Linked DNA regions of Homo sapiens. The protein of the gene in region 2 purifies or fractionates together with the protein of the main gene of each other region. This does not show direct contact. Each region holds a gene or a part of one and is shown on either strand. Other genes may lie near its edges.

Evidence for each region.
Region 1: the proteins of RAB7B (region 2) and ATE1 purify together in Homo sapiens (affinity purification with mass spectrometry; 2 studies listed by BioGRID and IntAct, with this or other methods). This does not show direct contact.
Region 3: the proteins of RAB7B (region 2) and CHM purify together in Homo sapiens (affinity purification with mass spectrometry; 2 studies listed by BioGRID and IntAct, with this or other methods). This does not show direct contact.

The regions. Positions count from the first base shown.
Region 1 is NC_000010.11:121,918,005-121,925,116, forward strand, and holds part of ATE1 (arginyl-tRNA--protein transferase 1), read right to left. Parts: intron 6,326-7,112; coding exon 6,262-6,325; intron 4,408-6,261; coding exon 4,345-4,407; intron 1-4,344. UniProt on the Homo sapiens protein: Involved in the post-translational conjugation of arginine to the N-terminal aspartate or glutamate of a protein. This arginylation is required for degradation of the protein via the ubiquitin pathway. Does not arginylate cysteine residues.
Region 2 is NC_000001.11:205,986,343-205,993,454, forward strand, and holds part of RAB7B (ras-related protein Rab-7b), read right to left. Parts: coding exon 7,078-7,112; intron 6,354-7,077; coding exon 6,138-6,353; intron 1-6,137. UniProt on the Homo sapiens protein: Controls vesicular trafficking from endosomes to the trans-Golgi network (TGN). Acts as a negative regulator of TLR9 signaling and can suppress TLR9-triggered TNFA, IL6, and IFNB production in macrophages by promoting TLR9 lysosomal degradation.
Region 3 is NC_000023.11:85,960,511-85,967,622, forward strand, and holds part of CHM (rab proteins geranylgeranyltransferase component A 1), read right to left. Parts: intron 3,543-7,112; coding exon 3,155-3,542; intron 1-3,154. UniProt on the Homo sapiens protein: Substrate-binding subunit of the Rab geranylgeranyltransferase (GGTase) complex.

The DNA.
Region 1 (7,112 bases), on a different chromosome or scaffold from region 2:
TAACCAGAAGAGTAAATATGGAAAATGACTCCATAAAAAGATGATGTGGCTGGGCCCAGTGGCTCAACGCCTGTAATCCCAGCACTTTGGGAGGCCAAGGCAGGCGGATCATGAGGTCAGGAGTTCCAGACCAACCTGGCCAATATGGTGAAACCCCGTCTCTACTAAAAATACAAAAATTAGCAGGGCATGGTGGCATGCGCCTGTAGTCCCAGCTACTCAGGAGGCTGAGGCAGAAGAATCACTTGAACCTGGGAGGCGGAGGTTTCAGTGAGCAGAGATCGCGCCACTGCACTCCAGCCTGGGAGACTAAACAAGATTCTGTCTCAAAAAAAAAAAAAAAAGATGATGTATAATGAATTACAAAGAGACGCAATTCAGGAAACATTTGATGCCACGTAAAATGCAAAAATCACATAACTACTTTATTTTGCAATGTTAATGAATCCCCTTTTATAAAGGCAATATGCTTAGAATAGTGCTTTCCATGTAACAGGCACCAAATACAATTTAGATTCTTTTTTCTTTAACCAATCGAAATCACCCTTTTCTGATCACAGATTAAGCCAATCAACTTCAAACTTATGAATAGAATCCTGTCCATAATCCAATAAATTGCTAATTGAAGACAAATGACTTCTGCCTTAGAAGATACCTTCTCTTTATAACCACGAAAACTGAAAGAGGACAGCACAGGATACTCTGTCATTCTATTCTTTGTGTAATGACACAGTGTCAGCAAACCAGACCCCATTTTTCTCATCCTCTGCCAATCCAACGGCCAGCTGGACTTCTGGGTCGGGGCGGGGGTGGGGGGGACGTGAAGAACTTTTCTTACAAGAGGATTGTAAAATGCACCAATCAGCTCTCTGTAGCTAGGATTGTAAAACGCCCCAATCGGCGCTCTGTAGCTAGCTAGAGGATTGTAAAACGCACCAATCAGTGCTCTGTGGCTAGAGGTTTGTAAAATGGACCAATCAGCACTCTATAAAATGGACCAATCAGCACTCTATAAAATGGACCAATCAGCACTCTGTAAAATGGACCAATCAGCAGGACATGGGCAGGGACAAATAAGGGAATAAAAGCTGGCCACCCTACCCAGCAGTGGCAACCCACTAGGGTCCCCTTCCACACTGTGGAAGGTTTGTTCTTTCACACTTCACAATAAATCTTGCTGCTGCTCATTCTTTGGGTCTGCGTCACATTTAAGAGCTGTAACACTCACTGCGAAGGTCTGCGGCTTCATTCTTGAAGTGAGCGAGACCAAGAACCCACCAGAAGGAACCAACTCCAGATACACCAGCACTTTGGGGGGCTGAAGCGGGCAGATCACCTGAGGTCAGGAGTTCGAGACCAGCTTGGCCAACATGGTGAAACCCATCTCTACTAAAAATATCAAAAAAATTAGCCAGGTGTGGTGGTGCACGCCTGTAATCCCAGCTAGTCGGGAGGCTGAGGCAGGAGAATCGCTTGAACACGGGAGGCAGAGGTTGCAGTGAGCCGAGATAGCACCACTGCACTCCAGCCTGGGCGACAGCAAGACTCCATCTCAAAAAAAAAGCTCCTAATCAAGTATCAGTGAACCTTTGGGAGTCTGCGATCATTCTAAAATTAACACGCAAAATGTGCTGGGCATGGTGGCTCACGCCTGAAATCCCAGCACTTTGAGGTGGGTAGATCACGAGTTCGAGAGTAGCGCGGCCAACATGGTGAAACCCCGTCTCTACTAAAAACACAAAAATTAACCAGGCCTAGCGGTGGGCATCTGTAGTCCCGGATACTCAGGTGGCTAAGGCAAGAGCACTGCTAGAACCCAGGAGGCGGACACTGCAGTGAGCTGAGATCACACCACTGCACTCCAGCCTGGGTGACACAGCAAGACTCAGTCTCGGTGGGGAGGATATGCAAAATGTTACATATTTTTGTCTACATCCCTTTGGGCAGGAGGCCAGCTCTCATCGACTTCTCAAAATGGTTTGCAACCCAAAAACAAGTTAAGAGCAACCAAGGGAGACAGCTTTGAGGACCAAACAAAAAAACTAATGGACAAAAAACTGTTTAATTTTTTAATTTTTCATTTCTTAAAGTAAAACTGTCTTTTAATTTTATGAGTATATATACACATTGAAATTGGGGGCAAATACATGCTTCAAAATGTTAACGCACTTTTCACATTTTCTATCAAAAAAAAAGGTTCAGGTGCAGTAGTAGCTCACACCTATAATCCCAGCACTTTGGGAGGCTGAGGCAGGAGGCTCCTTTGAGCCTAGAAGTTGGAGATCAGCCTAGGAAACATGGCGAGATCAGCCTAGGAAACATGGTGAGATCTGCCTAGGAAACATGGCAAGACCCCTTTTCTATAAAAAAAAATGTAATTTGCCAGGCCTGGTGGTGTGTACCTACAGTCCCAGCTACTTGGGAGGCTGAGGTGGGAGGATTACTTGAGCCTGGCAGGCAGGCTGCAGTGAGCCATGGTTGTGCTACTGCATTCCAGCCTGAGCAAGACCCTGTCTCAAAAAAAAAAAGAAAAAAGAAGAAAAAGATGATGATGACCTTATAACCAGAATAAGAGAGAAGATTTTTCTATGTTAGGGTGAGGTGAGAAGGTACATGGAAAATCCAAAAGATTATGAAAAAATCCAACGAAGACTTTGTAGGAAAATAGACTTTGGTTTAAGTTTCCCATTTAAGAAAACTGGACTCTGGGCCAGGTGCAGTGGCTCACGCCTGTAATATCAGCACTTTGGGAGGCTGAGGCAGGTGGATCATGAGGTCAGGAGTTCAAGACCAGCCTGGCCAACATAGTGAAACCCCATCTCTACTAAAAATACAAAAAATTAGCCGGGCGTGGTGGCAGGCACCTGTAATCCCAGCTACTCGGGAGGCTGAGGCAGGAGAATCACTTGAACCCAGGAGGCAGAGGTTGCAGTGAGCCGAGATCGCGCCATTGCACTCCAGCCCAGGCGACAGTGCGAGACTCCGTCTCTTTAAAAAAAAAAAAAAAAAACTGGACTCTAAGTGTAAGTGGCAGATTAAATTTAAGCCCTCTTCCTTCCAATTAATTTTTTTTTCAACTTTTATTTTAGATTCAGGGGGTATAGGTACAGGCTGGTGACCTGGATATATTGCATGATGCTGAGGTTTGCAATATGGATGATCCCACCACCCAGGTACTGATCGTCATACCAAGTTGGTTTTTCAACCCTTAGCTCACGCCCTCCCTCCTCCTCTAGTAGTCTCCAGCTTCTACTTTTGCCATCTTTATGTCTGAGTACCCAAGGTTTAGCTCCCACTTATAAGTGAGTGAGGTGGGAAATTAAAGAAAAATAAAATTAAAAAGAAAGATAAATAAGCTTTCCTGTATTAGGCCGACTTGTCCCAGAGGCAGCAACAGGCACGGCCCAGACCCAGGAAAAGCCTTGATAATATTATCTAGTGTGCTCTGGAGATTCTCCCAGCACTCAACATGCAGAGAAGAAAAAATAAATTTTCCTTTGTTTTACGGAATGAGTTCATAGATTCCTGTTCTCTGTAACTAGTGACTTCAAGTATTGTTTTATCTGAGAAGTACAATGAATGTCATGAGAAGCCTGAGTAGGCCTGAACTGCAGCTGCCTGGGCACCATAGTGAAGATTATGGGATAAGCCCAGGCAAACCTAGATAACGGACATCTGGGTTGCTTGGCAACGGTCATGTGCAATCCTGAGTTTGTCCTGCCTCTGTATCCCTGCTTTCACGCCACTGTAAGCTTGCTTCAAGCTAGCCCACCCCCTTCTGTGAACTGTGTATAAAAGTCTTTGTTCCGGGCCCAGTCTTTTAGACGTTGAGTCAGCTGGGCCTAAGTGCACTCAATAAAGTTTCTCCTGTTTTAACCCGAGGTCTCTCTTGTCCTCCTGAATCCCACAACATGAGAACGTGAACCTACCAAGTAATTTATAGGAGCCTGTAGCATTGCTTGAACACAAGCACTGTGTCAAGCAATACACCAGAATGCAGAAAATTCTAAGCTAAGTCCTATAATATTTAATATCCAAAAGTAATGTGAATATTTACCAACATTTTCCCAATATTTCATGGCATTCATTGACAAGATTGCTAAATTAAGAGGGTATTTTTTTCACATATTTATATCTGAACCAATCAAACAATATTACTAAAACCTACTGATCAGCACATAAATACAGCATCAGTATGAAGAAAAGACATAACTCATTTACTTTTCCTTTTAAAGGACATCTACCTAGAGCGGAAATAAACATTAAAAAAGCACAAGAGACTACTAAAATATTATACACAATCTTCATACTATAAATCCTCTTTCTACTAATTAAAATTCTTACCTTATTGTGTACTGAGGACAACATGTTTGATTCATGACAGGTTTGTACACATATTTTCCACTTCTAAAATTATAAAAATAGTTTGTTAATGTCTTATATATTTTTCACTTGCACCAAAACAGCCTAGCACAGGAGCATTAAATTAAGGTTAAAAATCTAATCAACATTGTAGAAATGCATGTAGGTTTAATTACTCTTCATAAGCCAAATAATCTTCAAAGTGCGTGTAGCAAAGTTTAGAACCCTGCCTTTTATTTCCTAAAGCTTTACTTGTGTACCCCACGGCCAATCATCTCAGTTCCCCTCTCACCAGCATCTGCCACCCCTGCTCTGCCTTCACCTGCCACCAATCCCCAATACCACAAGGGCAATGAGAGAAATGCCCACGATGCTGTGGGACTCATGTATGTGATGCCTGTGACAACCACACTTGGGTATTCCACATGCACCAGCACGGAGTACCCCAAAACTAACCCGCTTCTTTCCATGCATTCCAGGTCTATGGTACTAACAGAACTGTTCATTCTGTTCTCAAGTCAGAGACCTGGGAGTCATTTTAAACTCCTCCCTGGAATTCACCTCTATATCCTATTAGCAAGCTTTCCTTCATTTTAAACCCTATCCTAAATTGTCCCCTCTTCTCTATCACCATTGCCACTAAGGTGACAGTCCTCATCATCGCACATCTGGATAGCGCAATAACCTTTGAACTCATCTTCCTGCCTCTATGACCCCCCCTCAAATACCTCTCAGCCATCTGAACAATCTTTTCTAAAACAAATTCCTTCACATTTCTCTCTTACCATAAAATCCTTCCATGACTGCCTTCTAAAAAGTTCTGGCCAGGCATGGTGGTTCATACCTATAATCCCAACACTTTGAAAAGCTAAGCTGGAAGAACACTTGCAACCAGATGTTCGAGACCAGCACGGGCAACATAGCCAAGATCTTACAAAAAACTGAAAAATTAGCCAGGTGTTGTGATGCACACCTGTAGTCCTAGCCACTGCAGAGGCTGAGGCAAGAGGATCACTTGAGTGTGGGAATTTGGGGTTACAGTGAGCTATGATGATGGCACTGTACTCTAGCCTGGGCAAGAGAGCGACTCTAGCCTGGGCAACAGAGCGAGACCATGTCTCTAAAAAAAAAAGTTCCTTATCATGGCATGTGAAGTCCTTTAAAATCTGACCTATGTCTACCTTTTGAATCTCATTAAGTTTAAGGAAAGTTGTGATATTTCAGCTGGTGCTCCCAATCCCACGTCTTTGGCAAGTATTAGCGTACAGTATTTAATATTACTTATATTTACACAAGGAACTTTACCTAAGAGTTACTTAAAAATCATCCACATAAAAATAACTACTCAAAACAGGCCATGTGTGGACTTTAAGGAAATCCTTATCCAAATAAACTGTTAAAGAAGACATTTTTGAGACAATCTGGAAAATCTAATAAAAAGTAGGTAACAGGTAACATCAAAGAATTTTTATTAATTTTGTAAGGTGTGATACAGCATTGTGGATAAGTTAAAAAGAAAAAAAGACCTCTCTCTTAGAGATACATACTTATTGCCTATCTATTGATAGGATAAATGTCATAATAACCTACTGATGTAATTTGCTGTTAAATATTAAAAGGTGGAGCAGGAGAATCAAACATGATTGGCAGAACGTTAATAACTGCTGAAGCTTAGTGATAGGTACTTGAGGTTCATTCTAATGTACTCTCTGCTTTTATAGATATTTGACATTTTCCTAACAAAGTTTTTTAAAAAGGAGACAAAAAATCACTACATAAAAGAATATAATAAAAATTTTTCTTAAACCTCTTTCCAACAGGAAAGCATTTCAAAGGCATGCTGTATTTTTCAAGAACCTGAGTAACAGTAGGAAGTCTCTTTGTATCTGGAAGCTTTACCTTCGCCATCCTCGGTCTATGAGATCCTGATAATCCTGTACTGTCATGGAATGTGCCCACATGCCTGAAAAAATAAGTAGTGTGTTAATTACGGCAGGGTAACCTTTTTTCTTTTTTAAATTCAAAGTGTGAGGTTTAAAAATAGGAGTGTGTGTCCGGGCACGGTGGCTCATGCCTGTAATCCCAGCACTCTGGGAGGCCAAGGCGGGCAAATCACAAGGTCAGGAGTTCAAGACCAGCCTGGCCAACATGGTGAAACCCCATCTCTACTAAAAATACAAAAATTTAGCTGGGCATAGTGGCGGGCGCCTGTAATCCCAGCTACTCAAGAGGCTGCAGCAGGAGAATCACATGAACTCGGGAGGCGGAGGTTGCAGTGAGCCAAGATCACGCCACTGCACTCCAGCCCTGGCGACAGAGTGAGACTCCATCTCAAAAAAAAAAAAAAAAATAGGAGTGTTTAGGTTAAAATTCCAAAACACTCATATTGGATAAATGAAAAGTTTGTACATACTTCACAGCTGTTAGTTGGGCATACACACAGCACAAATAAAGAATGACACTATATATATTTTCATTCAAAAAAACACATCGAAGTTAATTATATTTATTTGAGGATTAGTCAATAGTCTCTATGACAGCATAAATTTAAGTCCTCACTGCAATCAGACTGCATCAGACCTTCAAACTTTAATAAATATCCCCAATGATTTAACATGCTGGTCTCTTCAGAAAACTTAGCAAAATGTTTTGTGCTTATTAGTTCTCCTGATTTATATACAGGTATATATTTACAGTACAGTCTTGAGCATCAAAAATTGGAGAAAAGTATGTAACAATATTCCTTCTAA
Region 2 (7,112 bases):
GGCATTATCAGTTCCACTTTATAGACAAAAACACTGAGGTTCAGAGAGGTTCAGCAACTTGCCCCAGATCACATAGCTGAGAGAAGGCAGAGCTTGGATGTAGCCCCAGCTCAGTGCTCCCCCTGGCATCTGAGCTGCCCTCTACAGGGCACTGCATAAGAACCATGCCTCTCCTTTTCTGTCTCCCTTCGGGAGCTCAGGGTCAGGAGCTCAGCTCCTGGTCTGGCACACATGAGCCACCAGGCACAGGCTGAATGACTACATCTCCACCCAAGTGCAAACGGCGTTCAATTTGTGATGTTGGCTTGGAAATGCTCTGGAAGCCCTCTGGGTTACTTCCAAAGACAATTGGTACCCCTGAGTTTGATGTCTAATTATTTGGGGAAGGGGAAATGACCACATACTGAGCATTTGCTGAGCCTGGTACTTTATAATCATTATTTCAGTTTATTTAGGGGAGCCAAGGTCTTTCTCATGGAGAAAGGACCATTCCACCCCTCTCCCAGAACACAGTGCAGGCCGAGGCAAATCAAACACTGCCCCTGTTTAATTGTCTCTGTGGCTCCTGCAGGTCCTGGGAATGTCTGTCTTACTGGGATAAAAAGTCCCAGCTGATCTCAGCAGACCCTTTCCTCTGACTTACCATGACCAGATCTACCCAAGTGCCCGGTTATGACAGACTTTTTAATCTCATTTTTCCCTGCTCTCTGTTTGGTTTGGAATGATTGCATACAGACTCTGAAATATCATTGTGATTATGTTGCAAATTAACATTCTTTTTATATCTCCCCCTCCTCCCCACCCCAACCTCAGAAAGCTGGCCTGGGAAGAAAGCTACCCAGACAGTATTTTTCACTTTTCTCTTCCAATCCCAGAGACAGTTTCATGATTTTTAAAATTGTCTCATCTTTTGTTTATAAAATGAAAATTATTTATAACTTAGGCTCTGACTCTGAAAATAAGCTCAGGGTGTGATAGTTGGGGACATGGGAAGTATGATAATTCTGAAAGTGTTACTTGCATTAATGTTGCTTTTGGTCAACAATATACTACTGACATTTCACTTTTCTGGTTGCAATTTTACTTGTTCATTGGAGGCCAAACATTTGACAAAATTAGTCCAGTTGGCATCATTTTATTTATGATGCTTTTCCATCTCATGTGCTTTTAAAATAATCAATTATACAAGTGCTAAAATTAGTATTACTAACGTTAATTACTAAACCATTAAACCATCACTAAGAATAACAAAGGATATTTTTAGAAAACATGATCTTAAGTCTACGGAATCACTGGCAAATCAGAAATTACCCACCTGAGCACAGAGCAAATAATTCATGCCCCAGTGAATAAATTCCTTGTAGCATAGATGCCAGCAAAGCTATTCTTTCTAATAAACTATTTTTTTTCAATATTACCTTCTGTAGAAGGAACAGGGATTTTTTTTTAAACTAAATCAGTAATTTCTTTAAAATTATTCTGGCTATATATGCCTGTTTTTACTGTGGTAAATATACCTAATAAAATTTACCATTTTTAAATTAAACACTTTTTAAAAAAATTTTTGTTTTGTTTTGTTTTTGGAGAGATGGGGGTCTCACTATGCTGCCCAGGTTGGTCTTGAACTCCTGACCTCAAGTGATTCTCCCACCTCAGCCTCCCATAGTGCTGGGATTACAGATAAAATGTACCTGGCTCATTGTAACCATTTTTAAGCATACAGTTCATGGGCATTCGGTACATTCATATTGTATTCACATTGTACATTCCTTGCTATTCATCTTCAGAATTTTCTCACCTTCCTAAACTAGCAATATATATTATAAATATGTGTGTATATATATGTATGTATATGTGTGTATATATGATGTATGTATGTGTGTGTGGGTTTTTTTTTTTTTTTTCTTTTAGTGTCTTGCTCTGTCGCCCAGGCTGGAGCACAGTGGTGTGATCTTGGCTCACTGCAGCCTCTCCCTCCCGTGTTCAAGCGATCCTCCCAGCTCAGCCTTCCGAGTAGTTCAGACTACAGGTGTGCCACCACACCTGGCTAATTAAAAAAAATTTTTTTCTTTTGTAGAGATGGGGTCTTGACATGTTGCCCAGGATGGTCTCGAACTCCTGGGCTCAAGCTATCCCCCGACTTTGGTCTCCCAAGGTGTTGGGATTACAGGCGTGAGCCACTGGGCCAAACTGCAGTACATTTTTATATACTCATTTTCTTCTTATTAGGTAGGAGAAGCTGCTGTATTTTCCCAGCTGTCCCTTGGAGATAATAATAAGGAGGATCATTTCCTTGTTCCATTATTTCCATTATGGAAATCACATCCTTCCTATTATTACTCAGTCTCAGGAAGTCTGTGTTCTGGTCTCCGCCCCGCAGAGGAGGGAACCGGTCCAGGCTGCGGAGGCACATGGACCAGGTGGGCGGCTGTGAGTCCACATCTGCGGGACGGGCTCCGAGGAGAAGGCGCCTCACAAGAACGTACCTCTTGGCTCCCCTTCTCCATGTCCACACCCGGCCAGGGGCAGGCAGAGCCCTTGCTAGGTCTGTGCAGAGTAAGGACATTTGAGGGCCGGCACTTCCCAGCCTCCCCTCTTGGGGCTTTATAATCCCAGGTCTCAGAATTAAAGCCCTTCTGCTCTCTCCCACACACCTCATCCTCTCCACGTCCTGTCCTGATTTCACTGTCGCTCAGTGCCTCCTCCCCTCCCCTATCCTATTCCACCTCCCTACAAACCCCTTCCCTGGGCCTACCTTGTTGAGAGACAGGCTCCCCTCTCCTCCATCCTCTCCTCCATCCTCTCCTCACCCCTCCTCCATCCTCTCCAGGGACCTCCCTGTCTGGCTGAACCCTGGCTTTTCCTAGAGTCACGCTTCCCCAGCGCCCCCTCTTGCCTTCCCCACTGGGGCTATTTGCAGACTTTACTCACCACAGATCCCAGAGAGGGGGCTGGCTTGCCTGGTGCCTCATTGCCTCTTTCAAACCTTTGTTCTTCCTCTCTCTGGACACCAAAGATCACCCACCCTGGGGCTTGGATTGGACCCCCTCTACTCCCGCGAGTCACCACCCGCCCTCCTCACCTTGCCAGGTGCCCCTCATTCACTAAACACTTGCCATCTGGTGAGGCCTCCTAACCCCTCTATACGCAGCCGCCACCTCTCATGGTAGCCTCAGAAATCCTTTGCTGCCCTCAATCTCTCCATGTCAGCCTCTTCCTCTCAGGGCCTCTGTAAAATAAGAAACCTGGTCTCCTGTGCCCCGATCTCCTTTCCCTCAACCCCCTCAGGCCCTTCCTCCTGCTGCCCTGTTCCCCAGCCTCCGCCACCCCAGCCCTGGCCCTTCTGCCTCCCCTGGTCCCTCTTCTTTCCTTCGTGGTTTCTTGGTGCCCTCGCAGCTCTGTCCTTCATCTTCTCTTGGTTGGAAAAGCCCTAGTCCAAGTTCCTTGCTCCTGGCTGGTACCCTACGGAGACCCCACCTCAAACTCCCAGTCTCCTCCTTCAGCGGAGTCCTTGGTGTCACCCATCAGAACTTGTCCTTGTCCCCAAGTAGCTCCTCCTCCCACTTCTCCCAAGAGTAACTGGCAAAGCTTCCTCATGTTTCTTAAGCCTCGTATTGGTTTCCTCCCTCTCAACAGAAGATGGCACCACTTATTTCACTGACTCTCGGTCTTGAACTCCCCCAGCTTCCCTCCCCACACCCTACAGACATGAAACAAGATGGAAGTTAAAATGAAAGTTTTGGCAGAGGCGCAACAACTGGACAGATGTCAGATATAAAGCAGGTGGAGACAGTCTACCCTGGATACATATTCCCAAAGGCTCATGATCAAGACTCTCTTGGATGACTCTAAATCCCACAGCGTGGATATAAAGCGCTTGAAAATGAGGATTAGGAGGGATTTCCTTGGAGAGAGTTGTGTTGTGGGCACAACTACCCTTGCCTCTCCCAAGAGGAGGAACAGTTAAGGACTCATCTCTAGCTAAAAGATGGTATTGAGGAGAGTCGTTAATGTACAACCCCTGGAGTTTGGTGGACATGGTGGACTGGTGTCTGACACACACCTGAGGTATCTGAGGCAACAGTCAACGGGGCAGAGAGAGAAGAGGCTGCACTGGGCACCAGCTACCCTTGTCCCCCAGTGGAGCCAGAATGCATGAGTGTGCCTTGTGAAGGACATGTGGATTCAACAGAGAGAGAGAGAGAGAGCAACAGGCTGGGGCTGGCTAAATCCCACTTAAAGACTGCTTGGAGGAAAAGGTGACCCCCATGGGGTGGGGATGCTGAAAGCCAGGGGTTGAGGAGGAGAATGCAAGACCCTTGTCATGGGAGGTACAGCGAAATGTTCCCAGTGGAGGCTTCCGAAGGACCCACAGGAGTGACCCACAGAAGAAAGGGCTTGCAACACCTCTCAGGCCAGAGAGTGCAAGACTGTCTTTTTCTTTCTTTCTTTTTTTTTTTTTTGAGATGAAGTCTCGCATTGTTGCCCAGGCTGGAGTGCAGTGGTGCGATCGCGGCTCACTGCAACTTCCGCCTCCCAGGTTCAAGCGATTCTCCTGCCTCATCCTCCTGAGTAGCTGGGATTACAGATGCCCACCACCACGTATTTTTAGTAGAGGCGGGGTTTCACCATGTTGGCCAGTCTGGTCTCGAACTCCAGACCTCATGATTCGCCTGCCTCTGCCTCCCAAAGTGCTGGGATTACAGGCGTGAGCCACTGTGCCCGGCCAAGACTGTCTTATGATAGTACAAGCCAAATTAGAATTGCTCTGCTCTCCTGACCTCTTCTCCCTCTTCCTGCTTCACTCCTGACAGGGTCTGAAACCAGAATTACTATCCCAGATAAGAGGAGGAAGTGTGGACCTCAAGGTTGGCAGTGAGATTCTAAGGACCTATTCCCTCTCTTAGACCACAAGGTTCTCACCCACAGCTGGTCCCAGTGGGGGAAAAAATGGAGACACCTTGCCTTTGAATGAACTTAGGACTTTGCTTATTATCTGAGGCTGGATATTTGTAATTAGAGAATTGACATGGAGTTTACAACCTGAAGTGACCACAGAACCGATGACTCGTAGATCTCTATTTCCAGCACAGACTTCTCCTTTGAAATTTCATTCTTACGCATTCCAAAGCCTGCTGGCCATTTCCAACTAGCTGTACAAGCTCCTCAAACTCGCCATGTCCAAACCAAAAATGTGTCTTTATGAACCAGAGGCTCTCTTCTGTAGATGTTAGCTCAGTTGGAAGCACCATCCCTCTCTCCCTTTCTCCTTCCATAAACACACTTTATCATGCCAAATGATGCCTCATTTCCATTGCTTTTCTCTATTTGAACCATTGTGAAAATGCAATTCAGACATGATGATCCAGTTCCCCATCACACTAAAAAGAGAAACTTGGTTTAAACAGCTCTTTTTGGTGGCATCTGGACTTTTGGCCCAAGAGCATCTTTTACAAATTCAGTCTACCGTATTCTTTCCTCATTAGTAGGCAAGGATTAGAAGTGCTGTCTTCTCAATGCCGTGTAATGGTAAACGCCTACACAAGTGGGGTCACTGTAGTCATGGAGCAGACCAACTGTCAAGTGGTTAACCCGATGGTCCGGAATATGCTTAAGCTAATACAAAAATTATTACTTCCCCAGAAAACTTGTATATCCAAGAATTTATAACTGCAGACCTCCAACTTGACCCCAGGCAGAAATGCTGTGCCACAGATTAATTCAAATTCCACTGTGACCTCCCTCCTGCCTACATCTGATGCCTTAACTCCTCCTTTCCCTGTCTCTGGACAAAATTACCTTTAGTTCTCAGCTTATATCATGCTGTTTATTCAGCCCAGAACCCAGCTCTTCCAGCAAACCTGTCCTATATTCTAGGCTTGGGTAGATGCCTCTCTATTGTGGTTCCTTAATGCCCAAGGTATATCTCTATTATTTCATTTACCGTATTGTACCATAATTACCATTTTATTTTATAATTACCTTTTAAAATGTCTGTATCTACTACTAGACTGTGAAATTCCTGAAGTAAGGACTATGCCTGATTCAGCTCTGTATGTGTGGGACCTAACACTGTGCCTGGCACATAGTGGGTGCTCATATAATGTTTGTTGAATGAATAAATGAACGAACAGTACCTTCCGGTCTGCCAGATCGATCTTGTTCCCCAACAACACCATGGGGTAGGACTGCTCCATGGGGACAATCTTGGCCAGGACATCACCCCGCCAGATATCCAGGGCTTCAAAAGACTCCAGGTCGGTGACATCAAAAGCTAGGATGCAGCCATCGGAGCCCTTGTAGAACGTGGACACCATGGAGCGGAACCGCTCCTGACCGCCCGTGTCCCAGATCTGGAGGGGAAAGCAGTTGCCCCATGGGGCTGTGATGAATGGCTGGAAGGAGGCCCAGCTGGATTACATCATGTCAAGGCTTCTTTTGCTGGGTAGGGAGCAGCAGGCCCTGGTACAGGTGCATATGGTTCTTTCACACCGTGGCACGTTGACCCTCCCACCCACATACACTCCAGCACCTTTGTGGTAACATTTAACATCCTGAGAGTAATTTCACATCTGAGCTCTCATTTTTCCTCTGGGTCATCAAGGTGGCAATTGTTATTCCCATCTGACAGATATGGAAACTTGGACCTCGGGAATGTCTTGCCTAAGATCACCTGCCAGGTTTTCCAGAGAACCTGAGACTAGGCGTGGGGTCTCTCAACTCCTGGATTAATGTCCTTCCTTCTAGATCAGGCATCAGCATTTTTTTTTCTATAAATAACAGATAGTAAATATTTTAGGCTTTGCAGGTCATTCTGTCTCTATATGCCAATTATTACTCAACTCTGCCATTGTACTGCATAACTTGATAAGCTAACCAATGGTTATGGCTGTGCCCCAGTGAAGTCTTATTTACAAAAATAGGAGGTGGATCAGATTTGGCCCATGAGCTGAAGTTTGCTCATCTCTGCTCTAGACCATTCTAGCTCTGGTTCACATTGCTACATGAGTGGCTGTCCGGGCTTGGGGGGGATTTTCAGTGTATGTATGTTGAAGAGGGAAAAGGAGGGCTGCTCACCTGTAACTTCAAAGTTGTGTCACCCAATATGATAA
Region 3 (7,112 bases), on a different chromosome or scaffold from region 2:
TCTCCTAGGTTCAAGCGATTCTCCTGCCTCAGCCTCCCGAGTAGCTGGCATTACAGGAATGCAATGCCACGCCCAGCTAATTTTTTGTATTTTTAGTAGCACACAGGGTTTCACCATGTTGGTCAGGCTGGTCTCGAACTCCTGACCTTAGGTGATCCGCCCGCTTCAGCCTCCCAAAGTGCTGGGATTACAGGACTGAGCCACCACGCTCAGCCTAAGCCTCTTTTTCACTACCCTCTAAGCGATCTACCACAGTGATGAGGGGCTAAAGAGCAGTGCAATTTGATTACAATAATGGAAATTAGATTTATTAATTAACAATTTTTCCTTAGCATGTTGGTTCCATAATTATTAAGAGTATGGACTTACTTAGAAATGAGCTTTCATTTTAAGAATTTCATCTTTGACCTTCTCTATTAGTCTGAGCAGTATGACACTATACGTATTTTATTTAACTAACCTACCTTGAGCTATTACTTTTTAAAAGGCTATATACATGAATGTGTATTGTCAACTGTAAAGCCCCACAGTATTTAATTATATCATGATGTCTTTGAGGTTGAACGCATATAGAAATGTCAACTAGTTTGGAGATACTGAGTTGGACTTTAGAAAAGAGGTAGGTCTTTGGACGAGCACGGTGGCTCACGCCTGTAATCCCAGTACTTTGGAGGGCCAAGGCAGGCAGGTCACGGGGTCAAGAGATCGAGACCATCCTGGCCAACATGGTGAAACCCCATCTCTACTAAAAATACAAAAATTAGCCAGGCATAGTGGCACGCGCCTGTAGTCCTAGCTACTCAGGGGGCTGAGGCAGGAGAATCACTTGAACCCAGGAGACGGAGGTTGCAGTGAGCAGAGATGGCGCCACTGCACTCCAGCCTGGCAACAGAGCAAGACTCTGTCTCAAAAAAAAAAAAAAAAAAAAAAAAGGAGGTAGGGCTTTAGGGCTTTAAGATAGATATTTGGCAATCATCCTAAACTTAGACGTTTATTAACTGCAATTATTAGAACAGATAAAATTTCTAAGGAGTGACCAATTGCCCCAATAACATGGAATACATTGCTTTCCATCTAGCATGCACTGAATATGTATTAAATGACTTAACATTTTAAAAACGGAAAATTAATCTCCTGTATTACTATGGTTATATGTGATTAAGATACTTCTGGTTTTGAAAATGAGTACATTAAATGTTTATTAGTTATTTTGTAGAACGTATGAACCCATGAAACTCTGCAGGACGCAGTCCCAACTGCCTAGTCCACTGCCTCTAGACATGTTTGGTTTTTACTTACCATAAGAGAACTGGTTATTACTAACCATTCAAACCGATGAAAATACCCAGAAGTCTCCTTCAGGGTATCTTCAAATGTGTCAACTTCTAATTCAATTGTCTTTTTCCTCCCACAACCAGCATTCATTTTCTTATACAACTGAATAATTTTCTACACCAATTCCTACAATTGAAACAGCACCGTCTTCTACCATTTCCCTTTGCAAGATATATACTAAATTTCAGCTAACATAAAAGTTACAGACTTTTATGAAATAGCCTTGATTCTTAACCACATTTATATCATCATTTATTTAGGTAAAACATTCCAAATTCCAAGTAATTACTTCAAAATGGAATTGTCACACAAAGCCCATTTGTTATTTGACTTGTTCAGTTTTTATGTTTTGTTTAACCTATTTCATAGAGTACTGCTCATGGGACCAGGAAGGTTATTAGTGAGCTAGGATTAAACTTCCATCCACAGATGAACAGCCAAGGTAATGTGGAAAAAATGCTAGATTTCAAATCATGACAGGGTCAAAGTAGATGGAGGTGGGAGAGATAGTACGGAAGTATGAAGTAGAACCAATGCAATAGCCAACTATGCAAAATCAGACACAGAGTGCTACATGACAGACAGAAAGAAAAATGGGTAGTAAAAAGATATTTATATTTTCAGGCATCAAGTTCAAAGGGAGCAAGAGTATGAGGATATGGGATTTGCAGAAACAACTTGTCAAGGGAAATGTTTTGGTCCCTCTCTGTCCCCTATCACTTGGAACTTGAAGAAAGTACATTAAATTGAAAAGCCTAGTTCTGTGCTAGTTCTGTGGCAAGTCTTGTGCTATTCACTATCCTCTCCTACTTCTTTTCAATTACTTATTGTTAGCTCTCAACTTATAGGATTTAGTCTGTTTTTCTCTACTTTTACCCTGTCCTGTATCATGACCCTTTAAGGCCATAATCCTTTATCTTACTGATTTTCTATTCTTTTGCACTAAAAATAGTCTTGCTTCCTATAAACCAAATGCAATATTGTACGCTTCTAAGATGGAGGGACCTCCTGTGAAGTTACAGTGAACTAACATTCAAGTTAGTTATGTTCAGGAACATAACCGAAGACAATAGCTTTCTTCCCAGCCTTCCTGCCTCCATCACTATTAAATTTTCCTCTGAAGCTTTCAAACCTGAACACATGATTTTTTTGAGACTTTTTTCTTAAATTATACTTTAAGTTCTGGGATACATGTGCAGAAAGTGCAGATTTGTTACATAGGTATACACACGCCATGGTGTTTTGCTGCACCCATCAACCCGTCATCTACATACCCGTCATCTACATACCCATCATCTACATAAGTATTTCTCCTAATGCTATCCCTTCCCTAACCCCCAACCCCGACAGGCCCTGGTGTGTGATGTTCCCCTCGCTGTGTCCATGTGAACACGATTTTTAAAAATTCATTGGTTTATTCTGAGTATTCATCATCATACAGTTGTGAAAATAGTTACTATACATAAAGGCTAAAAGAATCGATGGAAATTGACTGTAAATAACATGGATTTCTAAACAGGTTCATTAGAATTTTTCTTTTGATAGAATTCATAGTGTCCAGAGAATATTAGGTTGTAGTATGTGCTCAAGCACAAAAGTATTCTTCAGGTATAGATTAAAAACATAATTAAAGCATTTTCATGTGAGCACTTTAAATATGTTTTTAATTTGTACTTAAGGAATATTTTAAATGAATTACAAACATCTGGCTACTATCTCTTTACAAAACAAATGTTCTGCATCTCAGAGAATTACAAAAACTGGGTTTATGGGCCCAGATACTGTTTTCAATGCAAAGATGGGTAAAATTAGTACTTACCTTTGATACTAAATCAATATTAAATCTCCTGCCTTCTTTAATAATTTGTGAGTAAGTAATTCTGTTTTTCTTTGGTTGCTCTGTGGTATCTTCTGCTATAGGCACATTTTCACTCATGTCTTCTGCTGAAGTTGATGGCACACAAGTTTTATCATCACAATGGTTTTCTTTTTCCCCTGTCACTTCAGCACCATTTACTTCTAGCGCATTCTCTGGATCGCTGCTTGGAGTTTGTTCTGTGAGCATTTCACAGCTCATAGTGCTTAATGACTCATCCTCCGTAGGCAGGAAGGCAGAATCTGCAGCTTCTGTGGAGTTTGCAGATGTCACAAGAGCATGATTTTTCTGCAGTGCACCAGCTTCTTCGACATCTTCATGCAAATCCTGACTAATAAGAAATATAATAATAAACACCAGGCTTTATATATATATTCCCTTACCCCTTTTATCAAGTTCAGTGTACGTTTTGCTTATGTGACTCAGACATTAAACATTCATCTGTTAATGTTTCAGTAAAATATGAAACAAAATTAAGATTTGAAAGATATAAAGATTTCATGTCACATGCACATTTTTGAGAATTTAAGACAGACAGGGGAACTGTATTGGAAGCAAATTACCACAGTGATGAAGAACACAGTCTTCAGAATAACAGATCTTGGTTCAAACCCTGACCATATGACTAGTAAGCTCTGCGAACTTAGATACTTATGTATCCTCTCTGAGACCACCTAAATTACCCTCAATTTAGGTAATTACCTAAATTACCCTCTCTGAGACCACCTAAATTACCCATCTATGACACAGAGATAATACCACCTACCACAAGGTTGTTTTGAAGATTAAATTAAGTACTGCATGCAAAGAGCCTGACACAGTGCCTGGGACATAGTAAATACTCAACAGTGGTAGTTATCAAAGATGATTATTACTGAGGAATTCCTGACTTGGTGATACGACAGAAGACCTTCAATAAAGGGAAAAATATCTGCCTTGAAAAGATTAAGTTGGCCTATCACAATGTGGTATCTAATAGGACCTTTCTGTATAATTTCCTGCCTATTTTAGTACTGATGTCTATTACTCTAGTCGAAGCCCCATTTCCAAATTTATTATTGGAGCTAACATTCTCAGTCCACCATTGTCTTGATTTATAGAACAGGCTCCCATTCAGTCTGCCTGCTTTATGAATTTCTGTGATATTTTATCCTCCACAGAACCCACTATTTTCACTGAGTTGCCACACTGCTCAATACCTGGCAGAATGCCTTGTATGTGATTGGTCTTGGCAAGTAAAAATCTGCTAGTTGACTAACAGTAGCCCTAACAGTAGCCCTTCCTTATATCAAATACCCCACAAAAAAATCTTCCTTTTCCTGTCTCTAAACCAAACCACCTTCCTTATTTACTAATCTTCTGGTTTCATCTCCACCTACTTTCCAACATGGCATCTCTAACTCCGAATTTATCAATTCTAATTGTCAAATCATGACAGTTTGGTTCATATCATTTGTTTCTTCTGTCCTTTTCTTCCCACTCTGCATAATATCACAATTCTTCCATTCTCAAACATAATCACATACTTTAGCAAACTACTTTAAGAAAAAGTTTAAATTTAACTTCCAATTAGTCTTCCTTACTCCAATTACACTCATCACTCTATTATACCATGCTCCCATAATACACATATGCAGTTTACCTTGCATGTATTTATCCATTCCTTTTTAATAGTCCTTTAGTTTTCCAGTATATCCTTTATCTTCCAAATCAGACTGTAATTCCTTGAGGGAATACCTTAGCACCGCTCCTTCTGTGCCCCTCACGACACCTACCACACTGCTCCATAGATGTGGTATCCAATAAATGCTTAATTAATAATGGTTTATACGTGCAGACTATTTTTGTTTCAAATGCGAAACAAACTTGTTGCAAAAAACACAAAAAATAAGGCCAAGAAAAAAACACGGTATTGTAAATTAGAAAGTCCGAGTTAAGTGAAAAAAAGAAGTGCCTTATTAAAAATAACACAATGAACACTACAAAAAAAAATGAGGGACAATGATAGAATAACACTCAAATGTCAAGAAATAAAATGCCATATTTACTGTTATAGTAATTCTAATAAAATCTAGTGAAGAAACAAATTGATATCATTAATGTTACATGAATATTTTTGAGATCTAGGAAACCAAAGTGAGGAAAACACCCACTTTGTTCTATCCTAGATTTATCACTTAGGAAACACTTGGCAAGTCATTTAATCTCTCTGATTCACCACATATAAAATGGGGATCAGTCCATTTGCCTTACCTTTTATGAAACTGTTGTGAGATAAGGAAGCTAACATATATGAAAAGTAGTTTATAAACTCTAAAAGGTTAATCAAAGATAAGATACTAATCAGGCCGGGCACGGTGGCTTACACCTGTAATCCCAGCACTGTGGTAGGCCGAGGTGGGTGGATCACTTGAGGTCAAGAGTTCAAGACCAGCCTGACCAACATGGTGAAACCTAGTCTCTACTAAAATGCAAAAATTAGCTGGGCGTGGTGATGGGCACCTGTAATCTCAGCTACTTGGGAGGCTGAGGCCAGAGAATCACTTGAACCCAGGAGGCGGAGGTAGCAGTGAGCCAAGATCGTCCCATTGCACTCCAGCCTGGGCAACAAGAGCAAAACTCCGTCTAAAAAAAAAAAAAAAAAACTACTCAAAAATAAGATATTGTTAAACTGCCCACAGCTCAACAGTCAACTCAAAACCTGTATACCTAGGTTTTCTGCATTCACATGACAAAAGCCCATTGGCCATATAAGCACATAATAGCATCGCTATTAACAGCATTAAGAATGAAGAGTCATAATATGAAAGGTGATTTATATATTTTCTACAGAATTGTTCACACTCTTATTCACTTTTATTATCTTGAAAACCAACAAAACTAAAGTGTGTTACATGAGGGATCTAAGGGGACAATTTTCAGCAAAAGTTCCACACCTAATTTTTTGTTTTTCAGTAAAAGTTCCATGCCTAACTCTTAAAGCAAAAGTTCCATGCCTTTAATTTTAAGAAAGGATAATTAATTACACTTTACAGATAAGACAAAATATGGCAACTTCTCTTATTACAGACTATGATGATGACACTGTGAAAACTGAGCATAGCAAATGATCTAGTCAGTGGTTCTCTATTACATTCTGTGATGGGGGCCCTATAGAGTGAATGAAATACATTAACCAGTACTGGACAACCTGGAAGATATAAGTCAAAATACTTAATTAAAGGTATAAGCGAAGAGAAGAAATTATTCTTCGGAAATTTTTTCTACATCAATAAACTATCGTTTTACTGTTCTCAACATTATAATTTGGTGAGATTCCTAGCACTACGGAAAACACAAGCAATAAAAACACAACACTGTCCTCACTTTCCATTAAAAACAACCACAGTATTTTTGGAGTTCTGCCAAGGTTGAAGTTAATACCTAATGAGAAAATATAAAGACACCCAAAAGCTCCTAAAACTCCACTGACATCCTCAGAAAGCAAAATTCTGTTCATCTAAAAGGGTTATCTTTCCCCAAATTTAAAACTTTATACTGTGGTAAAAGACATTTTCTTAAAAAGATATTCAACCTTTCAGAGAAAACCTCAGAATCCAGTAATAGTTCAATTCTACTAATTTAAAAGTGTTTGAAAACTATAAAAACACATTTACCAATTACAAAACAATGTAGCTGCATTATAAGCCTTCAAATGAACCTTGGAGTTCTAAGATATTACAATGATTTTAACATACACAGGTGCTCCTCGACTTATGATGGGGTTACGTCCTGATAAACCCAATATAGTAAGACAAAGTGCATTTAATACCCCAATAAAACCATTACAAAGTTGAAAAATCATTAAGTCGAACCATCTTAAGCTGCAGACTGTTTATCTAAAGGAAAACAATCTGCATCA